Homo sapiens: one gene and its partner. The protein of the gene in region 2 purifies or fractionates together with the protein of the main gene of each other region. This does not show direct contact. Each region holds a gene or a part of one and is shown on either strand. Other genes may lie near its edges. The genes, in order: TLN2 and DCUN1D5.

Region 1 (4,539 bases), on a different chromosome or scaffold from region 2:
TTTTTAATCAACCCCTGAGGTGGCTTGTTGCCACCACTAGTTATTCTGTGAGACTGGTGAATGTTTAAAAAGGCGTGGTGAACAAAAATACTTTACCTGTACAATGAGAAATTGTGCCCTGCAATTTTTAGGACTTTCTCAAGTTGCCAAGTAATTGGTTCTCTCACTGTGCATTGATAATGTATACTTTGTTAGCTTTACAGTTTATATTCTGCAATAAGTTACAAAGTTGTACCCTAAGGTTATCTTTGCTGCTATGATACATACAGTCCGGTTCATCAGCCTGGTTAAGGACAGGGTATTGTTCTCACAGAATGTCCAGCCTTATCCAATGTTCCAACGGACTTATTCAAAATAATTTCAATTTACAAAATCAATTCAGTCTCCGGTTTATGGTGACAGCAGTTTCTTTCTCTGAGAAACACTAAAAAGTTGCCAGCAGTTCCATTTGAGTAACTGAATAGATTTGCTACCTATTTCCTGGTCCATTCTGTATTGGGATGGAAATAATGTCGTCTTTCCTTTTTTTTTTCTTTTTTGAGACAGAGTCCCGCTCTGTCATCCAGGCTGGAGTGCAGTGGTAGGATCACCGCTCATGCAGCCCCCGAGCTCCCGGGCTCAAGCGATCCTCCCACCATTCTCCCCAGTAACTGGGACTACAGGCATGCGCCCCCACACCCGGCTGATTTTTAATTTTTTTTGTAGAGATAAGGTCTCGCTATATTGCCCAGGCCGATCTTAAACTCCTTGGGCTTGAGATCTTCCTGCTTTGGCCTCCCAAAGTACTAGGAGTAAAGGGGTCATGGCTAATTCTTGTTTTTTTAAATTACTAATGTGTCCCTTACAGATAAATAAAAAAGTAAAATTACTCACAATTCCACCAATCACTGAGAGACTTATTGGTGTTTATCTATCCAGTCTTTTCTGCCTTTCTCCATAAATCACAGTTTTTAAAAACGGGACCATACGGTACATAGTGTTTTGTCTCCTCACCCCCTTGAATAACCTTCACATTGTTCCATGGTATTTACAGTATTTACTAATAATGACTGTAAATGTAAGAGGTATATAACTGACTTTATTCAGGGCATGGCAAGCAGGAGTGAATTATTTTCTTCTTATCAACACAGCACGCCCCTACCGCCACTCATCCCTATAGTCGTTCTCTAAATACCTAAGTGACACCTGACCAGCAAGGTTTCAGGGTCCTTGTGCTGAAAGGAGCAGGCTCGCCTGGGGTCACGGCCCTCCGCTTCGCAGCAAGACCCCACCGCCCACCACGGCCCTCCAGTTAGCCACAGCTCGCTTCCCCCAGGACCGGGCCAGAGGTCCCGAGAGGGCACTCTGCGGACCTAGGGGCCCCAGCCTACAAGACGCTGTGTCCTGCAGTCATCCCCTTTACACAGCAGAGCCCCAATTCTGGGAAGCCGGGGTCACCCCGAGCCTCCCTTCCCCGTGACAGCTCGGCCGGTGCATCACCTTCCCTCGCGGACCCTTTCAGCATCACCACGCGTGGGAGGAAACCCAGGACGGGCGCCTGAGCCTCGGTGGCGGCCCACCCCGGTGCCGCGCGGCGCCGCGGCCGGACCGGCGCCGCGCCGTCCCCGAATGATGACGCGCTTCCTGCCCTCCCAGCGCTCTCGGGCAGTGCGCTCGCGCTCGCCCTCGGCTCTTGTTCCGCGCCCGGAGCCAGCGGCGGCGGCAGCGGCTGAGGCGGCTGCGGGAGCGGAGTGGTCGCCCAGCGCGCGGGGGGACGCGGGCTGCACTCCCGGGCAGGCGCTCTGCAATGAGACAGTAAATGCATCCCCCGGTAAGGCGCACGGCTCACTCGGGTTTTCCTCTTCCTCCAGCTGCATGCACGTTGCATGAATTTCTCGTGTCTTTTCCCTCCCCTCTCCAGAAGGAAAATGTGGGGTTTTTTTTCCTCCCTTTTGCTTCTCGTGAGTGATGCCAATGCAGGAAAAACCCGTAAAGCTCCCAGATTTGATGGTCTAGGAGGGCTTCTTGCAGGAAAATAAAAATAAAATGAAATTAATGCACCTGTCTATTGCACATGTATGTTTCACTGCACCGGACCCGGGCGCAGCGGTTTGCAAACAGCCTCGCAGTCGGCGCCAGAGAGCGGATTCCTGGCCGTGGGCAGCCGGTCCCCTCCGGGGCTCTCGCTGGGTTTCCGGTAACTGGGCTTTGAAAAGCGGCCCCGCCTGCATAGAGTGTCCCCTCGACCCCAGCCGGGCCCCCGCGCCAGAAGAGTTGGCGCTGGAGGAGCAGCTTCATTCCAGCACTGGCCGCCGGGACTCCAGCGCCACTTTGCAAACAAGTCTCCCGCCGAGGCTCTGGGCTAAGACAGCCCGCCAGTGCGGAGTTCCTTCTCCGGTGCCGGACACTCAGACCTGCCGATCCCACGACTGCCCTTTACTTGGCAATCTCGCCACGGGCGAACTGCTGGCCGCTGAGCGACGGGGGCAGTGCCGGGCCGAGAGCGGGGCCAGGCTTTGCATCCAGTGCGGCTGGCCTCACACAGACTCAGCGGCTCCCTCTCCTTCCTCGGTCCCACGAGCTGAAATTTTGCGCCCATTGGAAGCTGGAGGGACCTGGAGACGAGTATTTCGGGATCCCTGAGGGGACCGAGGAACGACTTTCGAGGGCGCCATATTTTCAGTGGGTCTTGACTGCGGAGGGGAGGGGGCGAGCAGTTTCTGGGTCCCGGGGAGAGCCCCGCGCCCCAGTCGGAGAGGCCTGATCGGTTGTCGCCGGGAAAGTTTGCGCGCCGAGGCAGGCGCGGAGGCGGCCGCACAAGGCGCGCACGACTGCTGTCCCCGCAAGGGCGCGCGGACTACAGCGCGTCGCCACGCCAGCCGGCGGGGCTTGGGAACGAGAGCCGCCGTCACGGACAGCGTGCTGGGCTTGCCGCCTTCCTCTGTCCCGCCTGGACCCGGCCTTGGGGCTCCGAGGCTCAGGGAACACGCCCCTCTTCCCCGCAGCTACCGCTGCCCGGGTGCTCAGCCGGAGCCGTGCGCTGGGCGGCGTCCCGGGGCTGGGCGCCGAGTGTAGAGCGTTCTCCCGGTGCCCGGGCTCGCCTGGGTGCTCCGAGGGGCGCAGTAGCTCACTTCCTGGGGGAGAGGAGGCGCCTTGGTTCGTGGATCAGGACCAGGGCCTGGCCTGTGGTCGCCCCGAGGCCGCCGAACAGCCTGAGCTTCCAGTCGCCTCTTTGGCTTTAGCGGCGACAGCAGTAGCGCCCGCGGCTGCGTGTTCTGCTCTCGCAGCTCGTAGAGGCGAGGAAAGGAGGGCGTTTCCAGAAGTTGGGGCTTCAGGTGACGCGTGGGGAAACTTGGATTCTTGCTGTCCTTGAAGAGCTGGGACAACTTAGGCCAGAATTCCTGTGTCTCATAGTGAAAACTTCTGGTTCTTTCCAGAAGATGAGAGAGGAATGAACTGAAGTGTTGGCGTTGTCAAAGACATAATTAAAGACGGTTGGGTAGGGATGATGTCTTGGAGAAGTGGTCCCCAAAATACACGTAAATTGCCCTGGTGCTGTAAGTACCACTTACTTTTCCATTAATAATACCTGGGTGTGTTAAGCTGTGGCATTGTAAGGTTGCACGCTGACCTCCCTTCTCCAGAGCTTGGAGGCAGCGACCTCTCTGGAGTGAGGGGGAAGCGGGAGTGGGGAATCTTTACTTTTGAAGTAGACTGTGACCTCTGCTTTGTGATGGGACAGGGCACGGGCGTGTTTGCCAACCTACAGGCAGCCAATTGCAGGAACGTGTTCTCCTTGGAGTGTTACCGAAATGATGTCATAGTATTGAGGTTTTGTCGGCACTTCCGGTCTTCTTCACTGAAGAGGCTAGAAGGGACCACAGAAACCTCTGGGGTTGGGGGTTAGGTGTGCAGAGGGAGGGGAGAGGCTTTCCTGTGGGAGATGTGCCTGGAGATGTTAGGTGTTAGGCAGCTCTTTCCCTGATTCATTTCATGAAGCGCCTGCAAAAGTGACTCCGATATGAATGTCAGCCAAGATTTTACCTACCTTGATTGCTTATTTGGGACCTCTATGCAAAATCAGAGGATGGCGGTGGGTGTGACAAGTGGTCTTGAGAGAAGAGGGATGCCTACACGAATGCCTTTTTTTTTTCATTGAGCACTAGAATAGTGGAAAACACCCAGAGCCCAAGATATATTTTTCCAAAATTAGCATAGCTAATTTAGAAGAGAAATCAGTTGCAGAAAGCCTCAATCCGTTTTAAGTTTCCAGTCTTAGAGGGAGCACCTTAATCACAGAAACAGGTCTCTTCATATTGGGGAAGCCACTGGTTTCTCTCTGCCTTTGTAACCATTTAAGTTATCAGGGAGATTCCAAAGAGTATTAGAGGGTCTCTCTTTTTGGCATTGATGTGGAGCTTCTACCTCGAAAGAGAAAGCGAACTTTTAACAACTTGACCCTGTTGAATGAGTTACTAGGGATATTCTGTACAGGCATAGGCTATATATGTGTTTTGAACTCATCTACTGCTGACTCATTCAGGTTTTTCCAAACACTGT
Region 2 (3,812 bases):
TTTTCCAACAATGCCAACCGAAGAAAAAAAAAACCTTTGTTTAATGTGAATGGAAGTTGTTAATTTTGAACTTAGTTTTTCTCTAAGAGTTGAGATGTGATAAAAATCTTAGGCGTCTGTGTGTTTTCTAAGCTATTGCAGATCCCAACCCCCTGCTAGACTAATAAGTGGAGAGGAACATTTTTCAAGCAAGAAGTGCCTGGCTTGGTTTTATGAATATGCAGGTAATGAAATTAATATAAGAAGATACTAGTCATATGCTTTAAAAAGTTTATTTGCCTTATTCATTTAACAAATTATCTGTTACAGGCCTGCTATGTGTTAGTGCTGTGTACTGGGATGAGGGTCAGGACTGAAGATTGTGGGTAGACTAAAAATTTGTTGCCAATTTAGGCTGATATTTCTTTAAATATATATTCGGTATATATTTACTGGGAGGGAAGAACTCATTTACTATTAATAAAACGTGTAAACAAAGATTCATTTATTTACATCTATTGGCTAAAGTAGTATTCTGGAAAATAAAAGGTACACAATAAAACATTTTTGTATTTGATATTGTGGAAAACACAAAGTACATAATAAAACATTTCTATTCAATATTCTCTTTTTGAAATTTTTCTGAACTAACATTTTCTGAAACTTTTGGGGAGACATAGTAAAAGATTTAAACCCCTCAGTTATAATTGTACAACACATTTACTTTTTAACAATTATCATTTAGCCATCCACTTCTACTAGAGATGCAATAGTAAGAAAATAAATAGACTGATATTAATACAGTGTGATAAATACTATATTCAGAAGATACACTGTGAGAGTTCATAGGAGGGATATATAACCCAGCTTTTAAAGTGTCATGGGAGTTTTCTAGAGGAGCTAACTTAACCTCAGCTAAATCTTGTAACTGGTGGATGAAGAGCCCTAGGCCCAGGATGGGGTTGTGTTTTAGAGGCGAAAGTCAAAGCCAGCCAGAGATGGGGCTGAAGAGTTAAGCAAATATATGCAAAAGAACACTTATACTATCTCATAAATATATATGGAATTTTTTTCCCCTTAGAATAGTTTTGTTTTTTTGGAGTTATTGATTTTAAAGCTTTTTTCTTTTCCTTTTCCTTTTTTTTAACCTGCTTCACTTTTTTTTCTCCTTCTTTTAATCACTATCATTCTCAAAATGTTTGTTTAAAATGGAAGTGTATATGTAGCTATTGCCTTATATTTAGTGCTCATCCACATTAAGGTCTAAAGTAGTATACTTTGAACTTGAGGTATAAGTTTAGGCTAATTGTATGGAATGTGAGACTATTTTGAAAGGGGGGCAGTAACTTTACTGTTGGAATCAGCTGAGTGATCCCAAAGTACAATTTTAAAATTGTTTAGTAACAGAACAGATTCTTTCTAGACCAGAAATAAATGCTATTACTGGCATCCCAAGACAACCACTAACCCAATTTAAATGAAGGGAATTCATTTCTTACTGACCTCCATTTAAAATGTTGACCCATTATCCCAAATGCCAGTTTTACTGGTATGAATGATATATAATCAAAAGGTCACCCATCTTATTTCACTTATAAAGGTTACTAGATACAATAGAAATAGAAAATATTTGCCTCAACTAGGAACTTTCCTAGGTAGTGTAAGATTCTAATTAAACATTTGTTTACTATATTAGCATTTTTAATAGCCAACATAATAATTGCATTATTCCAGGAATTGTCCCAGGTATATTATTTTTTCTTGTGACTGTTCTATTAAGTAGGTAGTATTATCACCACCTCCCACTACGACTTTATTTTTTGAGACAGGGTCTCACTGTGTCGCCCACGCTGGAGCGCAGTGCTGTGATCATGGCTCACTGCAGCCTTGAGCTCCTGGGCTCAGGCCATCCTCCCACCTCAGCCTTTCTAGTAGGTGGGAATATAGGCATGTGCCACCACGCCTGGCTAATTTTTTAAATTTTTTGTAGAAATGGGGTTTCAGCCGGGTGTGGTGGCTCACGTCTGTAATCTCAGCACTTTGGGAGGCCAAGGTAGGCAGATCACGAGGTCAGGAGATCGAGACCATCCTGGTTAACATGGTGAAACACTCTCTCTACCAAAAACACAAACAATTAGCCGGGCGTGGTGGTGTGCGCCTGTAGTCCCAGCTACTTGGGAGGCTGGGGCAGGAGAATGGCGTGAACCCAGGAGGCGGAGCTCACAGTGAGCCGAGATAACACCACTGCACTCCAGCCTGGGTGACAGAGTGAGACTCTGCCTCAAAAAAAAAAAAAAAGAAAAAGAAAAAAAGAAATGGGGTTTCACGATGTTGCCCAAACTGGTCTCCAACTCCTGGGCTCAAGTGATCTAATTGCCTCAGCTTCCCAGAGTGGTGGGATTACAGGCATGAGCTGCTGTGCTTGGCCATACCCTCATTTTATAGATGAGAAAACTGAGACTTAGATTAATTAATTTGCCCAAGATCATATAGTGACAAGAGCCAGGATTCAAACCCAGGTCCTTCTGATTCTAAAGTCCATGCTTTTAACTACTATGCTTTTATGTATTTTTTATTTAAATTTTATAATGTTTATATATAGTTATAAACATTTTATTATAATAGATATTATTTTATGTTTATTTTTTATTTAAGCTAATTTTCACTTTTGCAAAGAAAATATTGGTACTCTTGGTTAATTTCTGTCATCCATTCAATAAATATTGAGCACTTGTTTTGAGTCAGGCACTGTGCTGAGTGCTGGATATATAGTGCTGAGCAAGTCAGACAAGATCCCTGCCTTTGGGGGACTTGCCTTCTGGTGAGGAAGACAGTCAGTAAACAGGTATGTAGGCAAGATAAGTACAGATTGTGGGGAGTTATAAGGATAATAAATATGGTGAGGTTCAGGAATAGAGAAGAAAGAAGGGTTAGATGGACTTTCAGATAGAGTGATTAGGGAAGGCCTCTCTGTGGAGACCACTTTGTGCAGAGACCTGATTAGGGAGGAACCATTTGTTTGCCAAATAAACAGTAACTGTTCTGTCTTGAAATGGGTATGTCCGTATTAAAATGAAGCCAATAATTTTGCCTACTGAGAATAATACATGTAAAGCCCTTAGCACAATACCTGGTATATAGTCAGAACTCAAATGTTATTATTATTAAAACAGTAATAGCATTACAGCATCAGATTTACTGGTTGTGTGTTTTTTACAGTGTTCCAAAATTAATGACTCTTACGTAGCTCATGTTGAAGGTGCTGTGTCACTGAGAATTTTTTTTTTTTCCCCCTAAGCATCTGTTATGGCTGGCATGGTATTAGGCCTTGCAGATATAGCTAGGAACATTCCTTTATGGTTATAAAGAAATCAGGAAATTGATGGTGTTTTTCTTTTAGTTTTGAAAATATCACTAAACTTGTTACTATGGTATTATGTGTGATAAGGCTGTTGGTTTTGTTCTTTCACAAGACCTCATTCTTGAGTGATATTTAAATTAATGATTCAGTAATATACTGGCCTATGGTAATTGAAAACATGGAAAGTGAAAGGGCAGTTTTAAAGTCTCATAGAGTCAAAAAATAAGGTTGGAATTGCATAGTCCTAATATAGTACCTAGCTGGTGGAGTAGAGTGAACTCATAGTATGAACAAAATCATTTCTATAGCTTCTTCAATTGAGTGGAAACCTAGTTGTCCAAAAGAGTTAATTAAATTTAGCTCCAGAGGTTTTACCCAGAGAGTAGTTTTATTAGAAAGATTGGAAGCAATGGTATTGGAAGGATTAACATTTTGCAGTCCGGGGAAAGCACATTAGTTACAGACCTCGCTT

Evidence for each region.
Region 1: the proteins of DCUN1D5 (region 2) and TLN2 fractionate together in Homo sapiens (co-fractionation; one large-scale study listed by BioGRID). This does not show direct contact.

What each region holds. Positions count from the first base shown.
Region 1 is NC_000015.10:62,388,876-62,393,414, forward strand, and holds the start of TLN2 (talin-2), read left to right. Parts: upstream 1-1,674; 5' UTR 1,675-1,810; intron 1,811-4,539. UniProt on the Homo sapiens protein: As a major component of focal adhesion plaques that links integrin to the actin cytoskeleton, may play an important role in cell adhesion. Recruits PIP5K1C to focal adhesion plaques and strongly activates its kinase activity.
Region 2 is NC_000011.10:103,085,639-103,089,450, reverse strand, and holds part of DCUN1D5 (DCN1-like protein 5), read left to right. Parts: intron 1-132; coding exon 133-224; intron 225-3,812. UniProt on the Homo sapiens protein: Contributes to the neddylation of all cullins by transferring NEDD8 from N-terminally acetylated NEDD8-conjugating E2s enzyme to different cullin C-terminal domain-RBX complexes which is necessary for the activation of cullin-RING E3 ubiquitin ligases (CRLs).